Regions from separate parts of the Homo sapiens genome. Here region 1 is linked to region 2. Evidence: fine-mapped expression QTL. A gene starts in region 2. The other region holds a variant in brackets. All regions are shown on one strand. Distances are between the middles of the regions.

Region 1 (17,062 bases), 260 kb before region 2:
TCTCAATGTCTGCTAACTTACGATTTTTGTAACCTCACAGTAATTCTACTTCTCTTCCATCATTCAAATGACAGTCAATCTTGCTCCCTATCTTCCTTCATTTGTCTTCAGGAATAATGCCGCCATTCACTAATCACAGGCATTATCTGAAATAAAGAGGCAAGACAACTAAAAGTACACATACTAAATGTCTAAATGTCTCCCAAGTTTCTTGAAGATGGATGTAAAAATACTGCCTGCAATAAATGATATCAAAAGGAACTTACAAAACAGTATGTAAAGGGACAAAAGGGAGAGATGAAAAAGGACTTGACAGGAGCAGGTTGATGTTTGGAGAAACAAGTTCTGATGGTTTTAAATTTTGTTGCCTGAGACTTAGCTTCCTACAGGTTGTCTTTTAAAATCTAAACTTTCAGGTAGAATTCAATCAGAAATCCTGGGGGATTGCCTATTCAGGTCAAATAACTGAAAAGGTTGAAAAAATGAGGTCAGCAATAACCTTGATTCGGTCCTCCACTGGCAACATTTTAGGAAGTACGTGATTTTTTGGAGTCATGAGACATTTTTCAGAAATTGGAGTCTTGGAAAACTTGAAATTATCTGTCATACTATCATTTACTCTGTTTTGTCAGTGGAGACCTGGCCAATTCAGTTTTTGCTTTCAGTGACTGAGGCTTTGCTTTAACCTGGTGACTCCCAAAAATATCTTCGATGTGTTTGATGATTTTTATTTGGCTTAGAAGCACAGCAGATGAGCCAAGTATGTCAGGCTAGATGCTCTGAGGAAAGGCTGCACATGGACCTACCCAGAGTAAGGAAGGAGTAAGGAAGTCTAATTCAATTTTGCACGAGATGAGATTCTGTTGCACACTGGCAACACTTCCCTGTGTATTTCAGCCTTTCACATTTAGTATTCTTCCTTCACCTCTGCCTTTCATTTTTCCACTCTATGATCAGGCCGGTTCTCAGCCAGACATGCCCCCTACTTCTTCCCTACCTGCAAAGATTCACCCATCTTTCACATACAGCCTGTGTTTCCATAAAGCTTTCCTTCATCATTCCTGGCAAAAGGGAGCTTTTCCCTCTTTCCATTCCTAGGGCTTATCATCTGCCTAAATGCAGCATAGGTTATATATGTACAGGTTGTATCTATAAGGTTGGCTTTTCTCTCCAACTACAAAGCTCACTCCTGGAGGATAGCATTGGATTTAATTCATCTTTGACTCCTCCATGGCATATAATAGTTTCTCAGTGAAAGTTCACAGGGAAAATTGTTCCTGGAGGGGGCTGCTCCTGGGAAGCTTCAAAATTAGAAAATCACTTCCTTACAATGTGATTAGAATGTAGGCCTAATATCCCCTAAACTATGTTGTTTAGTTTCTGGGAGAAACATTAGCTATTGACTTCATTCATTTCTAAAGTATTTGTCCATCAATGATCGTCTTCAAACTGAGCAATCAAGAAGATGGGCAGGGGAGAATGTGGAATCCTAATCTACATTTTGTTATCTTTCCCCTCACTCATTCCAGTAAAGTCTCTGCTACACATAATGATGCGGACTGGCAGAAGATTGATATCTTTTGTTCTGAGTTCTACAGCGAGTGTATCCTAGTGGCTATATTATATTATTGATTGCTGTAATAATAGAGCAATAATATTGCTGTATATTATTTAGAGTTATAATTTTAGGTACTCCTAATAAATTGATATTGCACTTTCTACTAAATATTTCATTTGTGACCTTTTGGTTACAGATGTTGAAAGTCAAACGGAAACACAAAGGTCATGAATGCCTATGTTTTTCTCCATATCTCGGTCACTAGCTTCCCTTAAGGTGGATATTTTGGAATGAACAATTTCTCTGTGACAGAAATAGACTAAGACAAGGGCCCTTCTTGGATTTCTAAATATGTAAGGAAAGCAAACGAAAGCATTTACTCAAGGCCCTCTCTTTTCAAAGAAATAAAATACGTAACACTCAGGAAAGCGTGGGGATTAGAAAATGGCTTTCTTACATAAAAGAGCTGGCTGTTTGCGTATTCCCTGAGCTATTGTTGAGAAAGTCATTGTCATATAATGCCACAAAATAAAACATAATATTTCCTAAAATGATTAATGAAAATTCAATTGATATAAATTACTTCAGAATATTATGAGAGATTCAGAACCATAGGGATCTTCTTATTTCTTAGCTTAGTAAGTAACAGCTGTAGATTGACTTAAATGTGAGCAAATGCCAGTGAAAGATGTCATTTACATAATTTTAAATGTAAGGATCAAATTTCTAAAACATGCTCAAAGTGCTAGAAATCTTTTTAATTCTACTCTCAACCAACTCAATTCATACTCTAAATTTCTTTTCTTCAGGAGTGATGCAATTTTGCGTTTTTAGTTCTGTAGGAAAATTTCACTAAGTTGTATCTATCTCCAGCACAATTATTGTTGTGAGAGCATCTGCAACATAAAACAAAATTTTCCTAACTTTCTCAGAAGCAAATGGGAATACGAACCTTAAGCTAAGGAGAAAAAAAAAAAAACAAACTGGAATATAGGAATCTGTATTCCTGCAAGTCACCAAAAAGGCATTGGGGTGCCATGAAAACCCAGGGTCATTGTTTTACTGTAAGGGTCCAGATACACATTTTAGGCTTTGCAGTCCATATGGTCTCTGTTGAAAGTACTCAACTCTGCCTTGACAACATAAAAGCAGCCACAAACAATATGTACATAAATGAGCATGCCTGTGTTCCAATAAAAATGGGGCTTTGGTAGATTTGCTCTGTGAATCATTGGTTGCTTGAGTTCTGAAAAATTTTTGGAGATTTGAGTTCAGTTCTTGGGGAATTATGTGGAAATTACTCTTTAAAAAAATATGCACATAAGTTTTAATGTGTGTATCTCAAAGACGAGAGATAAAATGAATGACTGACATTCAAGTAAGAGCATAAATAACTAATTTGTTTACTAATAATCTTTTACTGATACCTTTAGTTCATTGGGCATAAGAAATCACCTAAACCCCAACTCAGCTGTACCCACTCACTAAACTCACAAGACATTGAAAAATGTTGAAAGAAACACAGCAACATCTGTTGGACATGGAATGGACTACTATTACTATGTTTAGGCCTAACTCCTTAATAAATGGATATGTTACAACGTTCTTTTGGCTTATAGAGGACTTTTAAAATATTACTGAGACTTAAGGGTGCCGTAAAAAGAAAAACAAAATTACAAATTATGAATATGCTATTTGTTCTCTACGCTGCTGCATATTAACTGTATTGTAGGTATATAAAATAGGTCAGGTTAAAAGGAGGCAGTATGAGATGATAGTTTTCAATTTATGGTCATATATATATATTTTTTTTTGACGGAGTTTCGCTCTTGTTGTCCAGGCTGGAGTGCAGTGGCATGATCTTGGCTCACTGCAACCTCTGCCTCCCGGGTTCAAGAGATTCTCCTGCCTCAGCCTCCTGAGTAGCTGAGATTACAGGAGCGTGCCACCATGCCCAGCTAATTTTTGTATTAGGGGTTTCACCACGTTGGCCAGGCTGGTCTCAAACTCCTGACCTCAGGTGATCTGCCAACCTCGGCCTCCCAAAGTGTTGGGATTACAGGCATGAACTATCACGCCCAGCCTATAGTTATGCTTAACTGTACCTTTACAAAACAGATGAACTGCTCTACATCTATCAAGGAAAGGACAAACCTAGTAACTTTTTATCATTCACAAACTGTCAAAGTTGAGAGAGAGCTCAGGGAAAACAACCGCTTTCAAAAATTAGAATGCAAGGTCTTGTATTTAAGTAGCCTGAAATAATCTTTTAAATGGAAAATAAAGATTAATCAGAGTGAAAATTAAATGTTATTTTGACACAATGAATCACAAGCAACGATTAAATGTATATATTCTGTATCTATATGTTTTCCAGGTCAATCTTCAAAATGAGCTGAAAACAACTGTTTAGAATAGTGTGATTTTGCAGTCTTTGCATTGCTGTTTAGAGTATCAAACAAAATTCTGGGCCACAGATACGCTGCATTTCTCCAGTCTGGGATGCTCCTGTCAGGGCTTTAGAGATGACCATAGGGATGGAACAAAACACTGATCTGGGATAAGGCATAGCAAACCAAGACAAGAAAAGAGTAACCCACTGGTGGAATCTCATTTTTCCATTACTGACCAATGACAATATACCAATATTCAAATTGTATCACTTTCAATCAGAGGATGAGAAGAGGTTTTCTCCCACTTGCCTCATTTGAGCTCAACCAGGTAGATGCCTGGAGTCTTCTCTAGAGCAACATCTGATTCCTTTGAAGGAGTAAGACAGTTCACTTTCTCGGCAAGGCTTCTATTTTGCCCTGGTGGACCTCTGAACCAGACAACAGGGAACAGACTGAGTTCTTGAAGGAAGTTAGTATCACACAACCCAATCGTCTTGAGTACATCACAGAGCATTTATGAAAGTTGGAATTTTAAATAACCAAACAAATTAATCAAGTTTGTTATTGCTCTCCAAGATAAGTATAGACATGGCCAAGCTTTATGAGCTGAGATTATATTATCTGATCTCAGGTAATAGCCACAAGGAGTAATAATGACAAAATTTGCTCTTAATATATTGGTCAAAATATAGAAAGAGGAAATACTGAACTTGGTTACTGTGGGTGGTTTGCTGATATCTCTCCAGTGGTCTCTCTCCTTTTTTTTCTTATTTGCCAAGGAGACAAAAATTCACCCTGAGTGTGTCAGGGGAATAAAAGGACTTTGAAAAATTTTATAGGAAATTATTGGGTACATTTCTGTTTATCATGTGGTTATGAATATTGTAATACCAATAGTGAAATAACATGTACACAATTTTTTTAAATGCAGACACACATAACATCTAACCATTAAACAATGTTCAACCAGTAAATGCTCAACTACTAGCAATGACCCTGATCAGGAACATATCAGTGATGAACATAAGGAAATCAGAATATGGACTAATAGGCAGGAATTACAAGGAAATTACAAATCCTTTTACATAGGTTACTATCTGGAAATTTTGCACCATCTAAAGTAAATCTAGACAACATGACTGAATACTTTGCAATGACAAATAAGTGACATAATGGCACTATGATTAATTGACTCTGCTATGTATATTTGTTAATTATACATTGAGTCAACCATCAAGAAAATGCTAGTGCTGATTCACTTTGTTGACCTTTTTTTAAAAAAATTTGCTTTGCAAAAACAATTCTAAAACAAAATAAATGGCTTACTAAGTTTATCCTTTGCCTTTTCTGGCATTTACTTTTCTTTTTCCAACTTGAAATACAACCAGCTGCTTCTGTGCAATAAAAACTGATTTATGAAACAAAATGGCTCTCTCCAAATCTTCAGCCTGTAGGCAACCCACCATCAGTTACCATGCATGTGAAACAGGACATAGGGATTGCTAAACATTCTGAATTACAAAATATGTTTAAAATACTATGAAATTGAAGTCACAGTAAAAATTGTTCCTTTCTTTTTAAGTCTTCCACTAAAAATGACTATAGAACCTTGAGGATTATTCTAAAATCAGTATGTAAAAAATTTTCAAAAGTCTTTTGTTAAATCCATGTGTAATGGCAGTGTTGATTAAACCCTTCTAAGGAAATCTTAAAAAATGCCAGCTAATGGTCATATTCCCACTTTGAGGATAACTGGCATGATATCACCATCATTACACAATCTTCATCATGCAGATTTGGTATGGTTCATTAGATTTCCAGAAAGACATATTGCCTGTGATACAAGGATGGCATGAAGCTTAATCCAGGCCTCAAAATCAGATTCTATGTGCAGTTCTTCCTGAATGAAGACACATAGTTGGCTGAGAGTAGATTTTGGTAAGCAAGAATGCTATTGGCATCATGGCAGTACTCAGGAGACTCTAGGCTGTAGTCAAGACTCCAGGGCCCATCAGGAATCAGAGGGATTGGTCAGTAGATAATTTAGTAATGCCCGTTCTTTGAAGTCATGTTAGGAATCATTTCTCCTCTGAAGTAAATGAATGGGCAGGAGTGGTCAATAAGCTTTTACTCAGTGTGTAACATTTCTGAAACACTTTCTTTGTGGCCTCCCACCAGCTCCTCAATGTGAAAACTGAGGCCACTTAAATCTAAGCATAGAACTTCAAGTGTCACTTTGCTTAAAATAAAAAGTACTCTAGACTAGTGCTGTCTAATATGGTAGCCACTAGCCACATGTGACTATTGAGCACTTGATGTCCCAAAGGCCTAACATACACTCTTGATTTTGAAAACAGTATAAAAATAAAGAATTCAAAATATCACATTAAATTTTAATATTGACTATATATCGATAGAATAATTTGGATGAATTGGATTAAAAATACTATACTTTCATCTATTTTTCTTAAAATGTGACTAATAGAAAATCTTAAATGACATGTGCTTGCATTATATTTATATAATGCACTTGTTCTGGACAATTAACTTCTACCACGATATTATTCTAATTTTTACCTATTTATGTGTCCTGGGACAAGTGAAATTACAGTTTGAGAAAAAATACTGGATTCCAATTAGACTTTGTTAATGGGGGAAATAATTCAAGACTGTCCTTCATGGTTATAAAAAAAAACCTAGTTTATGCTATGTAGCTGAACTTATCTCAAAATAAAAACCCATAATGTAATGTGATAAGTGTTAGCTCTAAAATGTAAAATGTAATTTATTGTTTGCTGAAATTTGAATTCTTTTGCTTTGTGACTATATTGCCAATTAGGAGTGATGTTATGAAGTATTTTGTGAAATTAAATCTCCATTTGTCTACTATTATTTAGCTAAGTAATCTTTGAGATAGACAATACATTCCATTTTAACAAGCAATATAAACATTGGCTGTTCTTTCAAAAATGTTAACATAATTATCCTAACTTAGGATGTATGTATATGAAATCTTTGAATAATTTGACTGAAATGACCAACATTTTTGAAAGTTTGATTTGTTTCCTACTGAAACAATGAAATTAGTCACTATATAGTCATTATCAGAATCTTATCTTTAACATGAGTCAAAATTTAAAACTCCCATTGATTTTTTTAAAAATGTAGTTTATGGGTTTAAAAAGATAGAGGGAATTATCAACTCGAGTACTCACATGGAGGAATGGTAATATGCACTCATTTAAATGAGTAAATTCTAAAATACACATTGGGCATGGTATTTGCAACGTTGTTTCTATAGTTCTCAGGGCCAAACAATGCAGTCCGCCCTACTCTAGTGTTGAAATAATGTAACAACTGCCCTTGGAACAATATGGGGGTGGGCAGGGAGGAATGATGTGTTCTGATCTTTCAGCTAAGCGCCAAGTGCCACTTTCTAAAAAGACCCCCTTCCCTCTCTTTGCTCTTCCAACACGTGTGTGTGTGTGTGTGTGTGTGTGTGTGTGTGTGTGTGTGTTTCAGTCTCATGGTAAAAAGTACAACAGGAAATTGATCCTCTTAAATGGAAATCTTAATGCTTAACAAAGAAGACATTCTTAAAGGTTAAAAATAGCGAGCCCCTTATAATGGACAACATGGGAATTCTGAGAGGGAATAATTAAATGAGGAAGGAAGGAAAGAGGGAATAAGAAAAGTGCTCTCTACTAGATAGTACAAATAAAACAAAACAAAAAATAATCTTCTGAGCCCAGATGATGTGCTTCTTCAGGGGCTCCATATCAGTGACCTGTCAGATTCTTAAACTATGAAAGATAAGAAGTCCTACCTTGTTTTCTTCCCATGAGAACAGTAGTAGAGAGAGATTTGTGATTGAAAAGAAGAATGTCTACTGAGGTCCAACAGCCTCTACAAACTGGAGCTTTAGTTTCGTTTTCTAATTTAATAGTTTTGAGGGAGAGCCAACATAATTTAAGATCTCTTTTTTAACAAGGATTTTTATGTGATAGTCATTTTTATTGTCTTTATTTGGTCTCTGAAAATAATTATTTTTTAAAATGAATTCTTTTTTAAAATTGAGAAAACCCACCAAAAATGTGACACATAATTAATCTGATAAAATATTCATTTCAACTCAAACTAGAAATAAATTGGAGATAGTGCAATTTCTATAAGGGGAAAGTGTTTCTATGAAAGTCAAAGAGAAATTAAACTTATTCTGGGAAAAATCATAATAAAATATCAGGTCTAATGTTCCAGCTTTTTAAGAGTCTGATTTGAAATCAGTATTTTTCTTTATTTTTGTTTTTGTTTGTTTTTTAAGGTAAATAAATTGCATTGTGCTAAATTTATTGGCAGCCACATTCTCAACACTACATTGTAAAATGTGGGTACTTTCATTCCAAATACGAGAAAAAGACATACTAGCTTTTCATAAATAACTTTAGTTTATAAGTGATATGTGTAGATAACCATCAATTGGATAAAAAAAGAGCTTTGATAAACAATAATGTTTTCTTACTCTATTAAAGTCAATAATGAATAATCTTAAAATGGAATATTATTCCTACTCTATGAAGACATTTTGGCACTAACCTGTGAAATAGAATTTTCTAAATATTTGCAACTTGGTAATTATAGAGTTTATCCATTAAAATGTTCTTATCTGTAAAGTTGTATAAATTCATGAGTAAATACAATTTTATCTGGAAAATGAAAAGGAATCAATCTTATCTTCATCAGTTTAAGTACAGTCTTACCTTCTTTTCTTCCCTGTTTATTACACCCTAAGCTTTGTCTATCAGAAAGTCATCTTATTGGAGAGCAGGTGAAGGAAAGAATGGAACTCAGCGTGAGTTTGTAAATTACTTCCTCCAGGGTTGTAAAATGGCAGAATCTTAGAACATTTTGGTTATTATTAATATAGTGTATATAAATAAGAATAAAATAAAGCATTCTCCACACAGGCTTTAGGGACATATGGCTTCATGGCCTTTAAGGATACTTCAATTTCTTACCATTGCAAGTGGATTTTTTTTTGCACATATGTACAACTATCATCTATAAGCATCTCCTTGTAAACAGTTTGAACACATCAATGATAAAAAGTAAAATGTTGTAAAAGTTATGGGAACATGTCTTTTAGCACTACCTAGTATTAGCTAAGCAGTAGTTCAAAGGAATTACTGCCTTGTGAAGAAATCCAAAGGATGTAGGATGGCTAGATTTTCAAAGCAAAAACAATTTGCTACTATTCACTTCAAATATGTGCCACTGGTTGCTGAAAATGTATGCTTTTAAGTGTTACGTTGTGTTAACTTGCAAGATTTAACTCATCGGTATTAGGTATCCATTACATGCCATAGAAGACACTATTATTTTCATAAAGCAGTCACATGCATTGAAGTTAG[A/T]ATTACCAACTGGTATATATGTATGTTTTTTGCACCTCAAAAACAGAATCACTATAGTACATATCATGCTTCCACACCTTTCTTGCTGAAGGACAAAGTACATAAAATGCCGGTGTTTGGCTTCCAGATCTGAAGGAAGCTGTTTAGTACTCTGGCAGGATCACATCTTGCTGTGGAACTTCAAAACCCACAGCAGAGCTTCCTTGCCCTTCTCTGGGAGCTGCTGCCTCCTCCACAGTCTTCAGCTTCTCCTCTGCTAGGCCCTCCTCTAGTTCCAGGTCAGCCACCTTTATCCCATCCTCCACTGCCTTGGGCACCATTTTGGGGGCCTCTTCAGCATTTATATCTGCACCTTTAACTTTCTCTAAGGCTTGCACCTTCATCAGCTCAGCCTGTGCCCCCTTAACTGCGGCTTGGGCCCCATCGCCTTGAATTTTCTCTCCTTCTGGAATAGCTTTCATGTCCTCGTTGCCATCTTGGATTGGAGAAGGGTCTCGGCTAGCCTTGTGGCTCTCCTGGATGCTGCCATGGCTGCTGCTGGCACTTCCCAGGCGCGAAGAGGCCACCACAGCCTTCACCGCTGCCTGATTGGAAACAGAAGAGTGTCAAGTGTTACCTCTGCTTTAACACCCCACATCAGAGCTCAACCCCAGCTTTGCTTTTAGGGATTCCGTTTTATAGGTTAGCGTTAAAGTTTTCAAAGTACCTTATTCCTAGATTGTTTGCCAAAAGAAAATTTGGAGAATGAACAGTAAAACCTCTTTCATCTCAAATTAAATACAAATTAGTGTATTTAATCATCTGGACAACTGAAAGCCTGAATACATGTGTTTACCTGTGGCTAACCAATTTTTGAAAATTTTAATCTGTGTTTCCCGGTGTATTTGTTTTACGGAACACTAGTTCTGTGGACGTTAGTAGTTTTTACCACATGGATGTCATCATGGGGATATAAGAGTTCCGTGATCAAACTAGCTGGAGAAATCCTAGGTGAAGTCAATACTATTTAATTTGGGGTATTTATAATTAATTTGACCATGGAGCCTTTCAGATTTATTTAGTCTGTATCAGACCGTAAGCAATGGCTGCATAGGACCCTAATTCTGACCCCCAGCTGCTCTCTGAGATCCTCTACTTACATAGCTAGTCCTAAACACAGTTATGTAATAGAAAAGCTCCTAATCTCTATTCGATAGGTACTATATAAAATGATATATTTAGTTAAGTAATTTATTATATCACTTAAATTTTTAAATTTTTGTCAAGTAATTATTTATCTATATTAGGAAATATAGTTTCAAAAATTGTTTACCAAGTTTTACATATTCTGAAAGAAAACAACTTTCTGAATAAATATCAGTTTTCCCTGAACAATGCTGTTTAAGCAGTATACTTTAATTAGATGAGAAGCAGCAATAATATATTTGATATGTAAATATCAACTTATATAACAAATTTCCCTTTATTAATCATATATTCCTTATGAGAGTATAAGAAAACTTAAGTAGCTTTGTGTCAGCCTTATTGGAGTTTCAAAGCAGGATTTTCCCTGGTGCCTTAAGAAATAGATAATAGTATTAGATGAAGAACGGTAGAACTATTATTGATAGATCAAGATGAGATAAATTTTTTGAAAACAAAACAAAACAAAACAAAATATATGCTATCTTACCTTAAGCTTACGCCGGGCATTGAATTCTTGGAGCTTCTTTTGAGCGGTATCCATGTGTACAAAATTGGCTGCTTTACCTGTGACCCACGGATGCTGGAGAGCTTGAAATGTAGTCAGCCGTTTCTTTGGATCCAAAACAATTAATTTTCTGACCTGAAATAATAAAGAACCATAAACTTAGCGAGGTTTTTAGGATGACCTGGGCTTGCCCTCAGCTTACAAACTTCCAGATCTTATTCCATTTCCCAGCAGTACCACTAAATATATGTGAGAAAAAAATTGTTTAAGTCCTCAGGGGCCACTGTAGGTAGGCACAGCTTCAGGTAGCAGTAGCTGAGGGAGTATGAGAAGACAGGGCCATGTACCACCTGAGACCCCCAAAGTGGCAGACGGCTTTCCAACAGAAGTCAAGAAACAGCTCCTCACTTGCCTGTGGACTGGAAGTTCTTTGAAGGCAGAACCAGCAAAATAATTCTGGGCTGCGCTTCACAATCACCTAGAATTCAGAACTTAAAGTACATCTCTATGGTAACAGAATGGAATCATTCATGCATCATCATTCTTTCTGTGGGGATTAAATGGCAAACAAAAGGGAGAGTATCCCAGAACTTATGGAATACTACCTTATGTTTCTATCTTGGGGTTTATAGTTCTTTCTAACCCCTTGAGGGTACTTGAAGGACTAAGCCCAGAGTTTAAAAATCATTTTATAATCCAAGAAGTCAGTGGCTTGAGGGCATGATTTGCCTAAAGAATGGAATCCAATCAATGGCAGCCCATTCTTGGAGGTTTACCCCTGCTTGTGAGGATGGGCAGTCAATAAATTCCCAGGAAGGTCAGCAAATAAAATAATCCACAGTCCTGGGCTTAGTAGGGGTGACCTGATATGAGGCAGAGACTATTGGGAGTCAGGAAGTGTGTTCAAGCCCTGGTTATGCCACTCGCCACTTTTGTGACCCTAGATATAGACAAATATATAAATTGCCTGTGGACACCCCCTCAGGCTCTTTCCTTACAGAATCTTATTTCCACTTTAATTCCTTTGTAATTGCTTCTTAGATGCATATATAACTTTTTAAAAACTCATGTAATCTTTTAGCAGCCTTATCATTTGGAACTACTAGTGCCAATTCATAAATGAGGGAAGCAGGGTAGCTCAGAAAGATTTAGTGACTTGCCTCAGGTCAGACAATTTGGAATTGATGGAGCCTGTATTTAGACTCAGGTCTGTGTATGTCAGAGCGCATCTTGTGGCCACTACAGCATGATGTCTCCAAGGTGGTCAATCTCCCTGTACCTTGGCCTGCTCATGTGCAAAATAAGGAGCTTTGAATGATTGTAGGTCTCAGGTCTTTTCTAACTCTAATTACCTAAGGAGACGTGAACATAGGCTAAGGAAATCAGGCGGCAAGTCAAATGAGGAATAAATACTATCTGGTTCTCTCTTCACTTCCTTTCTGCAAAAGAATGTGTGTTTGGGCTAGATTTGTAGTGGGCAGAGACATGAGGCTCTTTAGGCTTAAAATCTGAGAGGACATGGAGGAAGGTAGGATGGTTAAGAGAAAGAAGGCATGGTAGTAAATAAAAATCTGATAGTAGTCATGGCTATTATCCGTTGAACAGGACTACTAATAATTTTATGTAAATGAGCCCTAATCCTTACAACATTTTTGACAATTAGGTATTTTCTTTTTCTTTTCCAATCATTTTTCTCCTCTCCCTCCTCATTACTATCTTCCTCACAAAAATACAAAGAATTTATTGAAAGTCAATGTGCACCAAAAATTTATATACACCATTGTTAATCTTTACATTTGAAGATATTGATAACAATCCTAACTGAATTATTAGGAAACTTTCTGAAGGTTATAATCACACTCAAAGCCTTGCCATTACCCTGCAGTACCCCTTACATCCAATTCCCCAACTCCTTAGCACTTAGTCTCTGCCGATGACACAACAGATGTGGGTTTTGCTAGTAAGTATACATTTATGGAGCTCAAGGATTCTTCCAGTTCTGAAGTTTTAAGCAGTGATAAACTAACAAGGGATCTAGCTGAATGAAGGAACATCAAAGCTAACCCTCTTATTCACTTAATATTTATTAAGGGTGAAAAGAAATGGAAGGAGGGCTAAATAAGATTACTATTATTAAGTTAGTTGATATTAGTTACTTAACATATATTATGTTCCTTAATTCTCACAACGACCTAGAGATAGGTACAATTATCATCCTAGATGAGAAAACTAAAGCATAGCAAGGTTAGATCATGAGCCTGAGGTTACACTTCCAGGACATGACAAAGGGGGCACTTAAATCCAGGTGTGTCAGACTCTGAAACTTCACGGTGTACTTCCAGATCCATTGTTTCATCCAATAAACATTTACTGAGTCAGTCCTATATGCCTATGTGGTTCTAAGGTCTGGGTACACACGCTTTGTCCTGCCCCAGAGCTTAAAATCTAATTAAGGAGGACCATTAAATATATAAGTGATGACTGTTATGAACTGGGGAGTGCAGGGGGTAAAGGAAGATTTTGGCAGAAGGAACCAACTATAGGTGGGAGGGACTGAAGGGGAAGGCCGACCATGCCTCCCAAGGGATATCTAGTGGCAGCTGGGGCTTGAGAATAAGAGTTACCCAGGGGTGTGTGTGTGTGTGTGTGTGTGTGTGTGTGTGTGTGTGTTTACATGCCTATGTGTAATGGAGAAGAAGGTGGGGAGGAAGAAAGAACATTACAGAGCAGAAGAGCCATGGCAATATCCTGAGCTATGCTGATGAGAAACTAGAAGTGTGGTGCACTAGAGTGAAAAGTGATCAAAGGGGAGAGATGTGAAGTGAGTGATGGCACAGGAGAGAGTGGCAGGCCCCAGACCAGGCAGCGTCATGTAGATCTTGTTATGGGTTTTGGATTTTATCCTAAGATTCTTAAAGCAGGACAAGGACATGATGCGATTTATTTATAAGACCATCCCTCTGGATCCTGTACAGACTGTATTTGAGAAAGGCATGAGAAGAGGCAGGGAGGTCAGATAGGAGGTTGGGGCAGTGGTCCGGGGGAGAGAACTGGATGGATTCAAGAGGTGTTTAGGAGCATGGGGTATGACTTGAGGAAGGAGTTGCAATGACATATTTATACATCACACATCACACACACTGACTTTCTCTTCCCACTCATGCTGGAAAAGCCATGAGCCTTAGGGAATCTGTTCCATGAAGGAACACAGAGGGTAAGGAAGAAATGCTTGAAGAAAAAAGAGCACAGGAAAGGGAGTCTGGACGACTGGATCAGCCCTAATAATGTCTTTCTGCTGGGAAGCTGTGTGACCTTAGCAGTCATTTCACCTCTCTGGTCTTTAGCATTCTCATCTTTAAAATGAGAGGAGGACTAGATGCCTCCTAAGACCTCTTCTATATCTAACCTTCTATGATTCAAAAGTCAGCTTTTGATTATGTCTGTGTGGTTGTTCTCTAGTGGATTGATGAGAAATGTTTCAATCTCATGTTAGCATCCTCTTTATTTTATAAGAGGTGAGTGACCTCCCCAGAAGGTATGGATTTCCTGAATGCAAACAAATGTCAATATTAACTTAAGTGAGAAGCAATGTAAAAACAAACAAACAAAATGAACTATTAACACAGTGGAACATTTTTATAATGCCAATGATGCATAATGGGACTTACGTTACTATTAGGATATTTTAATAAATTTGATGAAATTTCAGGAAGCAGTATTGTTTTACTTGAAGTATATCTAGGCTGGGTGCAGTGGCTCACATCTGTAATCCCAGCACTTTGGGAGGCCACAGTGGGAGGATCGCCTGAGGGCAGGAGTTTGAGACCAGCCTGGGCAACATAGCAAGACCCCATATTTCCAAAAAACTTTTAAAAATTAGCTGGGTGTGGTGGCATGCACCTGTGTCCCAGCTACTCAGGAGATGGAGGTGGGAGGATTGCTTAAGCCCAGGAGTTGGAGGCTACAATGAGCCATGATCATGCCATTACACTCCAGCCTGGGTGACAGTGAGACCTTGTCTCAAAAACAAAGAAACAAAAAAGAAATGAAGTACATCTAAATTCTAGGCAATTGCAAGCCATGTTAAAACAGAATTCTGTGTAAATTGTGTTTGAATTCACCCAGCACAGCTTTCTTCATAAGCAAGGTTTTTATACTTATAAGGTAGTAAAAGCTCATTAATACTGTAGTAATTGTAGTTTATGATAATTCAACTAGTGATGAGTCAAAAACATATCTAGTTTTTATTCTCTAAGGAAAATGTATTAATGAACTAATTTTATTAAAATACTTTAAAATTGAAAGAAAATATGGCATTAATATGGGTAAAATTTTAAAAAATTGTACTTCCCATTAATTAGTTAAAAATAAATTTATTTCATTTTGTTTCATTTTGTTTTGGTTACACTTACCAAGTCCTTGGCATTTAGAGATACTTCATCCCACCAGGGGGAGATAAAGTAATATTCACAATTCAGAATTCTCCTGAACATGAACTGATCGCCTCTTTCATCATAGAATGGTTCAAATCCACAAAGTCTAGAGGAATAAAATATAGAGAATAAAATGTCTTTAAAAGCTCAAGTATATTTCATCCAATTTCTGTAGGAATTCAGGACTGTTCTTTTTCACTGCTTCCTGCCATGGAAGCAAGTCTACTCAGCTTAAGTATGCAACTGCCTTATTACAATTCACTATTTATAGTGTAAACACACAATCAAGTCCTCAGGAAGTAGGAATTAATATAAAACCAACTTAGGATTTCTACAAAAAGCTATAATAATAATTATAATTATTGTGTAATAATAATTATTATTATAATTCTTATTACACAGAAGAACAATAATAATAATAGCTAACATTATAGACATTATGCTAAAGCCTTTCCATGGATTTTTTGACAGGTATTGAGAAGACAGACAGACAGGCAGACAGAGATTGAATAGACTTCCAATTTAGTGTGAAAGGGAAGAGCTGGGATTTTGAGAGTAAAGAAATTAAAAAGTGGAAATTAGAAATTTTCACTTATTTTTATTCTGCCCTATTCTATGAAATCCTCCATAGAAATGAGTAAAGCTTTATGACATTTCCATTCCATTCCAGTTTGGATTTCAGAGTGAACAAAGACAGAAGCTGAAACTATTGTCAGGCAATGACCTTAAAAAATGTATAAGATTAATATAGTCACCAGATGCAGCCAAAGAGATGAGCACCCTCAATTTACCTCATTCTTTGTATCATTTTCTACTATGGAGTCAACTTAAAAATGAATGGGAAAAGTGGGATAAAAGGGACGGAGAACTATCTTGGGCATCTTAACAAGAGAGAAAGGAAAAGCGAGTTGTTTGTGACCACCAAGCATCCACTGTTTACAGACGGGTGGAAGTTCTAAAATCAGTAGGGACCAAGAGGGAACTGCTTAAAAAAGCCCATGGCAGGGCATGTGTTGCATGTGTTCCATTTGAAAAAAAATGAGGGTGGGAGGGAGGATGAATAAAAGACATTTTCCCAAAGGCTTCACTCAAGCTGGCCAGGTTGGTACATAGCATGAAAAATTAAAGTGCATCCTAATACAGTGAGTTTTTAGAAAGAAGCAGTTTCGTATGTCCTTTTACTCACAGAATGTCCCACTGGGAGAATGTTTGTCTCTTCCAGATATTCTGGAGCCAGTGAGAAAAATGCAAGGCCTGACAGTGCAGACCCCTGGGCCAATGTGTTCTCCCTTTCCCTACTGAGCAGTCTGCACAGAGAATCCCGCTCCTGACCCACCTGTGGAAGAGCAGCCTAAGGTGAGACAGGGCACATGTCCTCACCCTGACAACGAGAGAGTCTGACCTTGCCTGCCCTGCCCTGCTCTCCACAACACTAGAAACCTATGGCCTGTTGCAGTTAGTCATGGAGAAATGAGCCAGCTTCCTAGACTTAGTTTAGGAGTTTCCTTATATTTCCCCTTCTGAAAATCTAGAGACAAAAATGACCACTGAAGAGTTATAGTGCTCAAATGCCTTTTCTC
Region 2 (13,354 bases):
ATCACTACGACATCAGGACCAAGACCTCAAAGAAGAGGAAGCGGGTACACATGCTGCACCCGGCCCATTTCATTATCATTGATTCACCCTCTTTAAAATCATTTGTTGAGTACCTGTTAAGTACTAAGTGCTCTGCTAGACATGAGCACATAATAGTGAACCAGCCAAACCCACAGACTCTGCCTTCTGGAAGCTTACAGTCAGTGTTCCTGGGAAGACCCTATGAAGCCCCAGTTTTTATTCTCCCACTTGCAATCCCACCTTGCTCCTGAGTCAACTGCCTGAGAAAAGAATCAGATGCACAGAGAACAAGACAGGGTTGGCACAAGTATATTTTTAATTCCTAGTAAGATAAAAAAACCTACCATCCCCCAAGAGCTGGAGCTTCTAAGTGCAGTGTGTGTAGCAGGAGATCAGAAGCCAGCAGTATACCTACCCAGATAGGCCATGGGGCCCTAAAGCATGGTGTCGGAAAAAATCAAGGATCTAAGAAGCTCTGGTCACGAGAATGGTTTAGGAAATTGGTTGACCAAAAAAAAGGAGAATCTGTTTCTTCAGCAGCCATGCTGTGGACTGAATTGTGTCCCCTCAAAATTCACATGTTGAAGCCTTATTCCAACTCCAATATGATGGTATTTATAGGTGGGGCTTTTGGAAGGTAATTATGTTTAGTATGAGGTTATGCAGCTAAACCCCTCATCGTGGGATCAGTGCACTTGTAAGAAGAGGCACCAGAGAGCTTGGTTTCTTTCTCTCTTCCCCTCTCTTTCTCTCTTCCTCTCTGCCTTGTGACGACACAGCGAGAAGGCAGCCATCTGCAAAACAGAGAGTCCTAACTGAGGAAATGCATTGGCTGGGACCCTGATCTTGGACTTCCTAGCCTCCAGAGCTGTGAGAAATGCATATTTATTGTTTAAGCCACCCAGTCTAAGACATCTTGTTATATCAACCAGAGCCAAGAGCACTAAGACAAGCCAAGAACATTGGCTGAAGCCCTTCTCTTAGAAAATGCACGCTTTCGTGTTTCCTTATAGAAAGCATTTGCTCACTGTGACCTGGAGCCAGAATACATGTTACCATGTAGAATATACCACTTCTCAGTCTCTGAGTTCCTTCCCAACACAGCCCCTGGCACTCTTAGCCAGTTCAAATTACTGTGTGCCCAGCAGACCTTAGGGAGACACCAGAGTTTTTCCAAAATGTTTAGAAGGGGAAAAATCAGTAATGACCTGGAGGCAAAGATAGGAGCCTTTTTCTCTACAGGGCTGTGCCAAAAGGATACCACCCAATGTTGCCAATTGGTCTGCAGGGAATTTCTTTAAAAGACTCTGCCTCATAGCTTAATCTATCACACACAGATTTATGGCCTACAACAGCACTTTTCAAACTGAATCACAACACATTAGTGGGATGTGAAATCACATGGGTTCAGCCAAGTTTTTTTAACAAAATAGATGAAATCAAACAGCATATAATAGAAAATATTAAAGTGCATTGCTGGTAATAAGAATAAACACTGTTTTATGAAATTGTTTCTGTTTTATACACACACACACACACACACACACACACACACACACACCCCTTACTATGGAAATCTATTTGGTTCCTAAACAATAATACATATAGCAAGGGATCCTATATAATTAGTTTAATTGAGTTGACAAATAAATGTATTTAAAATTATAAATGTATACACATAATTGTGTTTACATAAATGTGACACATAAATGTATTATTTAAAATTACATTGCAGTGGGGAGGAGTATGCAAAGTGCCTAGCCTAAAGAAACTACAGTAAGTGGAATGGGAACTAAATTTAAAGAAAAAAAAGGTTCCAAAATAGTTTAACACATTCTTCTCTTGTTCTAATTATCTTTCATTTGGTTTGGTTTCCTTGGATTTGTATGTCTGGGAATACATCTGGTTTTCTTATCATCTTTTCTTTCAACATGGAACAACAGTGAGAAACTAAAGGTGAGACAACTGAAAACAGGACATGGGTTTGCATGCACAGACGAAATCTGCACCACCAAGCAGGCTGGGCCATTTCCTGTCATTCCATGTGCCAAACCACTGGGCGGGATCTGGACCAGAGGCAGCTCCCTTCTCCCTCAGAAAAGCCTTTAAAATGCCAGTTTCTCAAATCACTGGGCAAAAGACCAACTGCTCTCGAGGATCTGGAGCCCTGAATAGGATCATGGCCAATTCGTATTTTTAAGTAGAGTTGAATGTGTGTGTGTCATGATTTTTGTAAACTTTTTGAAAAACTCTATGAACAAAACAGTGTCTTCAAATGTGATTTTAGGAAAATTACTTTGCCTGATACTTTTAATTCACCCGTAACCCCTATACTCTATGCCCTCCCTGCCAAAAGAAAGTGAGCACATCTGTCTTGGTCTCAATGGCTCCATGTGGATCAGTGCTGCCAGCACCTGCCTTCGCCAGCACTATCCAGGGGCTTCAGGTGGATATAGCCTTGGGAGTTTAGCTCCCCTTGAGTTCCCAAACACATCCTCAGGGTGTATCGCCCCAGTGGTCACCGTCCAATCTTCTTGCAATCAGGAGTCACTACTTTACAACAGACAACTGTAATGGAGGAGCCAACAAATCACTAATTCTGGTGGAGACTGTCTACTTTCTAGAGCTAACCACAACAGCAACACGTAACACCAGAAGCACTGTTCTCTTAGTATATTAATGACAACTGCATTACTAATGAATTAGAGTCACACTAGCAGGTGGATTTGGTCCAAAGCTGAGAGTAAAGGCTTGAAACTGATGACCTGAGTTCAACTTGATCTCTAGTGTAGGAAGAAAGAAGATTTTAGTCACTCAGCCAATATCTACGATCATCATTCTGTTGCATTCTCTGGCTCTATCGATTCTTAATAATTATATCTAGAATAGTAGTTGATGTTTTAAGTTTATTTACTTAAAAATTTCTGATAATGAAAATGATACTTCTCAAAGTCTCAGCCAGAGTAAGCATGCACCCCACGAATGCTGCCATGTACAGAAAACTTACCTAACAATACGCTTTACTGCTGACAAACAGAGCCTAAGTAAGACATTTTAGCTTTTATTGTTCCTCAATGTAGTTTAACTCTGTGATCTTTTACAGTAATCATAAGACTAGATAATAGAGCGAGAATCTTAGCAATGTATAGACAGAGGGTCTCCAATAGGATGGGCTTAACTTACAATTTTTCGACTTTTATGATGGTGGGAAAGTGATAGCATTCAGTAGAAATCGTACTTCAAATTTTGATCTTTTCCTGAACTATACATGGTAGGATACTCTCTCTGATGCTGGGCACCGGCCATTAGCCACAGCTCCCAGTTAACCACAGGAGGGTAAACAACCGGAACTCTAGAGTGTTCTCTGTTGTCAGTGTTTTTTGAATATTGTGTTTTGTGTTTCATATCTCACCATGTCTACAAAATCCCATCTGTACACGGTATTTAACAGTTATTATAAAATAGGCTTTATGTTAGATGATTTTGCCCAAATGTAGGCTAATATTAAGTGTTCTGAGCATGTTTCAGGTAGGCTAGGCTAAGCTACAACGTTTGTTAGCACAGGTGTAGTAAATGCATTTTCAACTTCTGATATTTTCAACTACAGTGGGCTTATTGGGACATAACACCATCATAAGTTGAGAAGCTTCTGTATAACCGATTAATATTTGTCCTCCAAAATTTACTGCAACACGTAATTCTGAACTGAAAAATAAAAAACCCAAACTTCAAATTTCTCAGTTTTTTCCTATGCAGGCTACCATCTCATAGGGGTATACAATTGGCAGTTTATTTTTTTCCCATTTTTCAAATTAAAGTGAATTTCTTGAGTTTCATGACGATGAAGCTTATTCATAAAGACAACGTGTGTGGATAAGTCAGCCTATTTGAGGCATCTAGGGTTAATGTTACTCTGAAAACAGATGTGCTACTGGGACAGTCCCTGCAGCAGCATCAGGCACTTCCTCTACTACACAGTAGTTTATAAAACACCCAGTAAACAATTTTAAGTAGATCATCCCTTTACTCAGAGGTTTACATGGTTCCACTGTCACGCATCATACAATTAATAACAGGCATGTTTTGGACCTTACAAAAATCGACATCATTGTCCTTTCATTTCCACCTATATATATAATAGATCTTCAGATGAATACTGAAAAACTTGATCAAAAATGGATGTTTATGTATACATTATTCAGTGCTCAAATACTTCAAAACATTTTTAACAGTGACAAATCACTGAATTTTCATTCAGAAGTTTGCCTATTTTACACATCTATATTCAATGAGCCTTCAATAGTACTAGCAAAGTGGGGGGAGAGTGGGCAGTGATCATTACATCTTCCCACTAAATACCAACATCCAGAATCCTGCTCTGGATCCTCCAATGACTTGAAAAAATAAAAAGGCTGTTAGCAATACTATTTCCAGCAAAAAGAGAATGAAAAATGAAATTGCAAAGGAGTAGTAAGTACAGAAGCTGCAACTTGTCAACCGTTGAAATTACATCTTCAGATTCCCTATACTAAAGAGCCTGGATCTAAAATAAGTGTTGAAAATAAATCTCCTTACCTATGGATAACAGAGAGAAAAGACAAAAAAAAAGGAAGTAAGGGAAAGAAAACTATAATTTTCAATGGATACAAATACGAAAGCATATGGAATCATGCAGAAGGCCAAACTGCTACCTGTTTGGATCTTCAGAGGAGGGATAGGGGACATATCTGCAATCCTAGGGAGATGGTCTGTTGCATATATAATTTAAATAAATCACTCCAGCCCATGAAAGAAGGGAAGCAGCAGCATTCTCACTAATTACCACTGCCTGGATCCCATATGCTGCTTTCTCTTTAAAGCCACACTAGTTCATTATTCTGCCTTCAACTCTCTTAAATGATTCATTTCTCCCTTCACTCCTGAGCAGACTCTGCAGGGAAGCTAGTATTTAAGTTTAATTTCTCGTGTCACTTGCTTTGGAGAGCTTGACGAGGGGAAGGAGGAGGAATCTAACTTAATAATTCTGTCTTGATTTGGAGGGGCACCCTCCGGCCCCCACCCTAAACAATAACTAGACAAACAGGACCCTCTGGCAAGCTATAATCGTGAGCAAAGATATCAATTGGGAAAGCAGGGCCCACGTGCGGTGGGAGCTGTCACCCAAGGGAAGTGGCAGCCTGCGAGAAGGAGGGAAGGTGGGAGGGAGTCGGGCTGATCCTACAGCTGCACCGGCCTAGGCGCTCTGGTGGGGTGGGAAGGACTCGAGCCGCACCTGAATGAAGGTTAGCTCTCTCTCAAGACACTAACTAGGTAGGGAGAAATCGAAGGGCACGAAGGCAGGCTCCCGCACCCTCCGAGCCGTCGCTGCGAGAGGGACAACCCCCAGTGCACGCCGCGGGCTTCCCCAGCCGGAGCCCGCGCCTTACCGTCCCAGCTCCGACTCCACCTCGAAGAAATCGCTCAGCGCATCCCTGTTGGAGCCGTCGATCCAGTAATCCGGGACGAGGCTCGCGGTCCCCGGGGCCGCACTGGCGGTGACCGAAGAGCAGGACGAGGCGGAGCAGGAGGGCACCGTGACTTTGAGCATCTTCGCAGCGGGACTCCGGAAGCCGCCGCCGCCGCCGCCGCCGCTGCCCGAGCGAGAAGCCGGCCGCCAGCCGCCGCCTGCGAACGCAGGAGCGAGAGAGAGGCGGCGTCCTTCACGCGCGCACACGCCCACCGCCGCCGCCCGCGCTCGCAGGGACGGTGGGCGGGGAAGGGGGCGAGCCTCTGCGAGAGGGCGCGAGGGGGAACCCGGAGTCGCCGCCCGCTGGAGGGAGACTAGCTGCACCGCTGAGGAGAGAGGCTCCCTCCCCCTCGCTCCTTCCCTCCTCACCCGCCCTCCTCCCGCGCCGAGCCTTTCCCGCCGCCCTCCCTCTTTCCTTTCTCTCTCCCAGGCTGTGGCTGCCGCGGTGCCGGCTAGGGCGGCTCCGGATGCTGGAGCTTGGGGAAGGCACAAGGACCCGCGCATCATCCCACGCGCCCTCCCGCGGGGACCGGAGCTGGAGGGAGACCGTGCGCAGCGGGACGCTGCTCTGGGATGGCGGGCGCCAGGCGTACCCTGGCAGCACCTGGGTCCGGGCGGCCCCGCCGGATAGCGAGAGAGGGACCTAGGTGGTGGTGGCGCAACTCATCCCTCCTTGAGCGCGTCTCCGTGGCGAGTCCCTCCCACCTAACACCAGCTAACCAGCCATCCTCTGTCAAAGCTTATATTGGTGGCCGGGGAGGGAGTACTGTGGTCGCCGATCCCTCAGGGCTCCTGTGCCTGGACCCAGTGAGAGCTGGAGGAAAAGGAAGCGCCCAGGTCCACACTGACCTGACTCACCTTTGAGTGAAGTCTTCAGTTGGAATAAATGCTGTCGTCGCTGCTGGTGGCACTGCCTCCTCGGCACTGCTGGAGCTCCTAAAAGAGGAGATACTTGGCTGTGTCGAGTTCAATCTCAGCATCTGAAGTGGCTCAGAATTACAGTTCTAGAAGGGCCTTGTGGAAGCCAACTAGTAAACCCTCTGCCTTAAGGCAGGACCTGTCCTCATTCATGACAGGGAAGACTGCTACATGTAAAAGCCCTTTTTCTCTTCCCAAGAGATGTATCCCATGATAAGCATTCTTATGTCCTGTCCATCAGCTGTCATGGCTCTTCTTCTCAGTATTAAACATACATCACTTAAACTACCCTTGAACTTTTTTCTTTTCAGATTTCAGCAAAGACGAACAACAATTAGTCATGTTCTGATACATATCTATGACAGTTATTATACCACAACTCATTTCTGGCTAAATAGCTCCAGGCGCTTTCACCTTACTTCACAGGTGTTACTTTTGGCCTTTTTTTTTTCCTGAGTTTCCTCCAACATGCGCTAAACTCTTCCTAGTAAGTCTCCATTCCTGATAGCACCAACCATTAATATGGTCCAATATTTTAATCTAATTTATGGATTTATTATTCTTAAAAGCCTGCCTGCTATACTGGTGAACAAACAACCAAAAATATCCAATCAAGTAGTTACAGGAATGTGATTCCTAGCTGATTGGAAATTGAAAATATATATAGTCATGCATCCCTCAACCACGGTGAGAAGTTGAAGAGATGCATCCTTAGGCGATGCAGTTGTAAGAACATCATAGGGTGTACTTGTACACAACCAGATAGTATAGCTTACTACACAGCTATGCTGGATGGAATAGTCAATTGCTCCTAGGCTTCAAACCTGTACAGCATTTTACTATACTGAATACTACAGGCCAGCGGTCCCCAACCTTTTCGGCACCAGGGACCAGTTTCTTGGAAGATAATTTTTTCCACAGACAGGGGGTGGGGAAGATGGTTCTGGGATGATTCAAGTGCATTACATTTATTGTGCACTTTAATTCTATTATTATTACATTGCAATACATAGTGAAATAATTATACAACTCACCGTAATATAGAATCAGTGGAAGACCTGAGCTTGTTTTCCTACAACTAGACGGTCCTATCTGGGGGTGATGGGAGACAGTGATAGATCATCAGGCAGTAGATTCTTATAAGGAGTGCACAACCTAGATCCCTTGCATGTGCAGTTCACAATAGGGTTCATGCTCTTACGGGAATCTAATGCTACCACTGATCTGACAGGAGGCAGAGTTCAGGCAGTAATGTGGGAGATGGAGAGCCCCTGTAAATATAGATGAAGCTTTGCTTGCTTGCCTGCAGCTCACCTCCTGCTGTGTGGCCCAGTTCCTAACAGGCCACAGACCAGCCCATGGCCTGGGGGTTGGGAACTCTGCTGTAGGCAACTGTAACACAACAATAAGTATTTGTGTATTTAAACATATCTAAACATAGGAAAGGTACAATAAAAATATGGTATAAAAGGTAAAAAATGGTACACCTGTATAGGGCACTTACCATGAATGCAGCTTGCAGGACTAAAAGTTGCTCCGTGTGAGTGAGTAAGTGGTGAGTGGATATGAAGGCCTAGGACATTACACTACTTAGACTTTATACATACTGTATGCTTAGGCTACACTAAATTTATTTAGAATAGTTTCTTTCTTCAATGGTAAATTAACCTTAGTTTACTGTAACTTTTACTTTATAAACTTTTTAATGTTTTAAAACTTTTTGACTCCTTTATAGTAATGCTTAGCTGAAACACAAATACAAGGTATTTTATACAAAATATATTGTAAAGCTGCACAAAAATGTTTTCTATGTATCCTTATTCTATAAGCTTTCTTCTTTTTAAAACAACTTTTTTAACTTTTTGAACTTTGTTAAAAACTAAAACATACACACACACTAGCCTAGGCCTACACAGAGACAGGCATCGATATCATGTCTTCCGCCTCCACATCTTGTCCCACTGAAAGCTGGAAGGGCTTTAGGGGCAATGACATGCATGGAGCTGTCATCTTCTATGATGACAATGCCTTATTCTGGAATACCTCCCGAAGGACCTGCCTGAAGCTGTTTTACAGTTAACTTTTTTTATAGCTAGAGGAGAAAACTCTAAAATAACAATAAAATGTATAGTGTAGTAAATACTATACTAGTATTTACTGGTAACATAGTATAAACTAGTAACATAGTCATTTATTACCATTATAAAGTATAATGTACTATACATAATTGTATACACTATACTTTTATATGACTGGCAGCACAGTAGGTTTGTTTACAGTGGCATCACCATAAACACATGAGTAATGTATTACACTGTAAGATTAGGCTATGATGTCACTAGGTGACAGAAATTTTTCAACTCTATTAGTCTTGTGGGACCACCGTTACACATGCAGCCCATTGTTGACCAAAATGTTGTGTGACACATGACTGTACAAAAACTATTCCTCATGATAATTTTATAATGATGAGCACAAACTCAATGTACAAATGCTCTAACAAATAACAAGTATATGCAAATTCATACAAATTCACTTACATACTAGCTTGTTTGGTGAAAGACTGAAAATGCCCACGTGATGTTACTTTTCAGAGAATAGATTCACTAATCGTGTTGAAAAATCAAGTTCACAAGCAAAGCAAGATAATAAAGCTCTCTAAATTCTAGCTTTGACTCAGTAAGTTTCCCTTGGCTTGCACTGACCAGTGGACAAATGGGCATGAAATAGTTGCTAGGCCATTTTTATTCTCACTTCTTTGAGGCAAGTCCAGCAGCAGCAGCACTGCATGTAAATGCTTGTCTGTTCTTAGCAATTCTTTTACAACATAAGCCCAAAGCAAGCATGTTACATTAAAGGAGATGGTAAGCCTTTTTTCTCCTGCTACTTTAGGTAACAATGGTGCAAGAAAGCCATTTCATGGTACAGAGGTGATTATAGAATTCATTTTATATTCAGCATAATTTTAGTCATTTGACATCTATGCTTTTCATAATTGACTTTTGTAAAAATGCTATTAATTGAAGTTTAAAAACAGGATATTTTGTATAATCCATGCAGCTTACTTTCATTTGAGACATAGATAAAAATTAATAAATATTAAAATAGATGAAACAGGAATTAAATATACAAAATGTACCATTACTTCTTATCAAAACTCAACTGAAATGACCAGAAAAGGAACAGGGTTATCATCCCACAAAAAGAAAGAGAGAAGTGATGTCAACTGAATCTTGAACACGTAAACAAACAGTAACAGAGGAGTTAATAAATCAGAAACCTAGATTTGCAATGGGAAAAGCCAATAAGAAGAAATCTAATCCCTACTATAAAATCAAGACATGTTCAGAAGTTAGAGTACCAGATAGTTCTCAAGGTGAGGCATAGAACAGAGAACAAAACATTGGTTAAAAAATTTTATAAAAAGTTATTAGGCCCCTTCATCCAAATTAGAAAGGAAGAAGTCAAATTGTCCTTGCTTGCAGATGATGTGATCTTATATTTAAAAAAGCCTAAAGACTCCACCAAAAAAAAAAAAAAAAAAAAAACTATTAGAATTGATCAGTCCAGTAAAGTTGCAGGATACAAAATCAACATATGAAAACAGTAGCATTTCTGAAATAGAAAATGAAAAAGTAATCCCATTTACAATAGCTACAAATAAAACAAAATATCTACGGATAAACTTAACCAAAGAAGTGAAAGATGTCTACAATGAAAACCGTAAAACATTCATGAAAGAAATGGAAGAGGACACAAAAAAATGCAAAGATATTTTATGTTTATGGATTGGAAGAAACAATATTTTTAAAATGCCCACACCACCCGAAGCAATCTACACATTCAATGCAATGTCTATCAAAATGCCAATGACATTCTTCACAGAAATAGGAAAAATAATGCTAAAATTTATGTAAAACCACAAAAGAAGCCAAATAGACAAAGCAATCCTGAGGGGAGGCCAGGGCAGGGGGAAGCTGGAGGTGTCATATTACCTGGTTTCAAATTATAATACAAAGGTAAAGTAACCAAAAGAGCATGATACTGGCATCAAAACGAATATATAGGCCAGTAGGACAGAAGAAAGCACCGAGAAATAAATTCATGCATTTACAGTCAAATCATTTTTGAGAAAGGCACCCAGAACATACATTAGGGAAAGGACAGTCTCTTCAATAAATAGTGCTTGGAAAACTGGATGTCCATTTGCAGAAGACTGAATCTAGACCCTCTCTCTCACGATACAAAAATCAAGTCAAAGTGGATTAAATACTTCAATCTAATACCTGAAACTATGAAACTACTAGAAGAGAATATTGGGGAAACACTCCATTTCATAGGTCTGGGAAAGATTTCTTGAGTAAGGTCTCAAAAGAACAGGCAACCAAAGCAAAATGGACAAATTGAATCACATCGAGCTAAAGTTTCTGCACACAGCAAAGGAAACAATCAAAAAAACTGAAGAGACAACCCACAGAATGGGAGAAAATATTTGCGAACTATCCATCTGACAAGGGTTTAATAACCAGAATATATAAGAAACTCAAACAACTCTACAGGAAAAAAAATCAGATTGAAAAATGGGCAAAAGATCTCAACAGACATTTCTCAAAAGAAACATACAAATAGCCAACAACTATATAAAGAAATTTCTATTCATCAAAGAAATGCAAATCAAAACAAGGAAATATCTCACCCCTGTCTTTCTGATAAATGACTTTTATCAGAAAATCACCTTAGAGTGAAACCTACCATTAAACAGGCTCAGTGACCCAAAGCTTCTAATGAGATACAATCTTTCTAATAAATGACTTTTATCAGAAAGACAGGCAATAATGAATGTTGGTGAGAATGTGGAGAAAAGGGAACCCTCGTACACTGTTGGTGGGAATATAAATTAGTACAGTCACTGTGAAGAACAGAATGGAGGTTCCTCAAAACAATAAATAAATTAAAAATAGAACTAACATGTGGTCCACAATCCCACTGCTAAGTATATATCCAAAAGAAAGGAAATCAGTATATCAAAGATACATCTGCACTCTCATATTTATAGCAGCCATGATAAAGAATCAACCTGAGTATCCATCAGTGGATGAATGGATAAAGAAAATGTAGTATGTATACACAAGGAAATATTATTCAGCCATAAAAAGAATGAAATCTTGTCATTTGCAACAACACAGATGAAACTGGAGGACATTAAGTGAAATAAGCCAGGCACAGAAAGACAAATATTGCATGTTCTCACTCATATGTGGAAGCTAAGAAAAATATTGAACTCTTAGAGATAGAGAGTAGAATGATGGCTATCAGAGGACGGGAAGGGTAATAGCAAGGAGGGGATAAATAGGGGATAGTTAATGAGCACAAAAATACAGTTAGATACAGGGAATAAGATCTAATGTTCAGTAGCATAATAGGGCAACTATAGTTAACAGTAACTTATTACATATTTCAATATAACTAAGAGTGGAATTGGAATGTTTCTAACAACAAGGAAGTGATAAATGCTTGAAGGGATGGATATTCCAGTTACCCTGATTTGATCACTGCACACTGTATGTTTGTATAAAAATATCACATGTATCCCATAAATAAGTGCAAATATTATGTATTCATAACAAATTCTTTTTTTAAATTAAAGCTTTTAGGCTTCCTGGATTACCTCTTCTAACAATTCACAGCCAAAAAACACTCCTACCAAAGCCTAGAAGAAGATAATATATTTAATTTTGTAAATGTTGAACAAGGAACGAAATATGTTTTAGGTCAGAAGATACAGCTGAGGCCATATTGAAAAGAGAGATTAAGTGAAACTCTGCACGATAAGTAGCGAGACCCCTGAGGGCACACGCTCCCAGAATGTTGAGAAATAGGTTTATGTCTATTTTGCCCCTAGCCATACAACTATTGGTGGATTTTTCACTGAACAAAATAAATAACCCAAGGAGGGTTATATATATAACACAAAATACTACAAATAATTCCCTCTATATGATATTCAAGGAAAGGCAAAACTGAAGTGACAGAATGCAGATCAGTAGTTCTCCAGGGCTAAAGTGGGAGGGAATCAAATGCAAAAGACTCTAAGGGATTTGGGGAGTGATGGAAAGGTTTTATATCATGGTTATGGTGGTGATTACAGGATTTTATTCATTTGTCAAAACTCTGAATTATACTTTTTAAATTGATAAATTTTATTGTACCTAAGTTACATCTTAATAAAAACAATTAAAATTAAAGGCACAGCCAGTGCTCTAACTTAGGTAAAATTAGAAGTTATTAATATTGGAAAGAAAGAAGTTAAATTGTTGTCATGTACCGATGACTTGACTATTATATAGAAAATTCTAAAAGTTGGTTTAGACTACTACAATTGATCAGTGAATTTGTCAAGGTCACAATATACAAGGTCAATATAAAACAATCACAATATAAAACAAATACTAATAGGAAATGATAGGAAAATTCACTAATACCATTTCATTTACAATAGAATAAAAAGCATAAAATACTTAGGAATCAATTCAACAGAAGATGTCCAAATCATCTACAGTTAAAATTACCAGATATTGCTAAGTGAAATTTTTGCAAATCAAAACTACAAAGAGAAATAATCTCATACCAGTCAGAATGACAATTACTAAAAAGTCAAAAAATAACAGATGCTGGTGAAGCCGCAGAGAAAAGGGAACACTTATACATTGTTAGTGGAAATGCAAATTAGTTCAGCCACTGTAGAAAGCAGTTTGGAGATTTCTCAAAGAACTTAGAACTACCATTTGGCCCAGCAATCCCATTACTGGGTATATACTCAAAGAAAAATAAATCGTTCTGCCAAAAAGACACTTACACTTGTATGTTAATTGCAGCACTATTCATGATAGCAAAGGCAGAATCAACCTA

Evidence for each region.
Region 1: its variant is fine-mapped to the expression of CAMK4 in whole blood (INTERVAL, PIP above 0.99).

What each region holds. Positions count from the first base shown.
Region 1 is chr5:111,476,907-111,493,968 of GRCh38, reverse strand. CAMK4 (calcium/calmodulin dependent protein kinase IV) reads right to left here. Exons shown (of 11, transcript NM_001744.6): 9 at 15,462-15,588; 10 at 11,032-11,184; 11 at 1-9,943. The coding sequence ends at 9,503. Among named protein-coding and RNA genes, the nearest start is that of STARD4-AS1, 27 kb to the left of the region's middle. The variant A/T (reference allele first, on the strand shown) is at 9,360.
Region 2 is chr5:111,216,738-111,230,091 of GRCh38, reverse strand. It overlaps CAMK4 (calcium/calmodulin dependent protein kinase IV), which reads right to left and starts at 5,708. Exons shown (of 11, transcript NM_001744.6): 1 at 5,448-5,708. The coding sequence starts at 5,608. RefSeq lists enhancers at 5,470-5,519, 6,480-6,579 and a silencer at 5,630-6,119.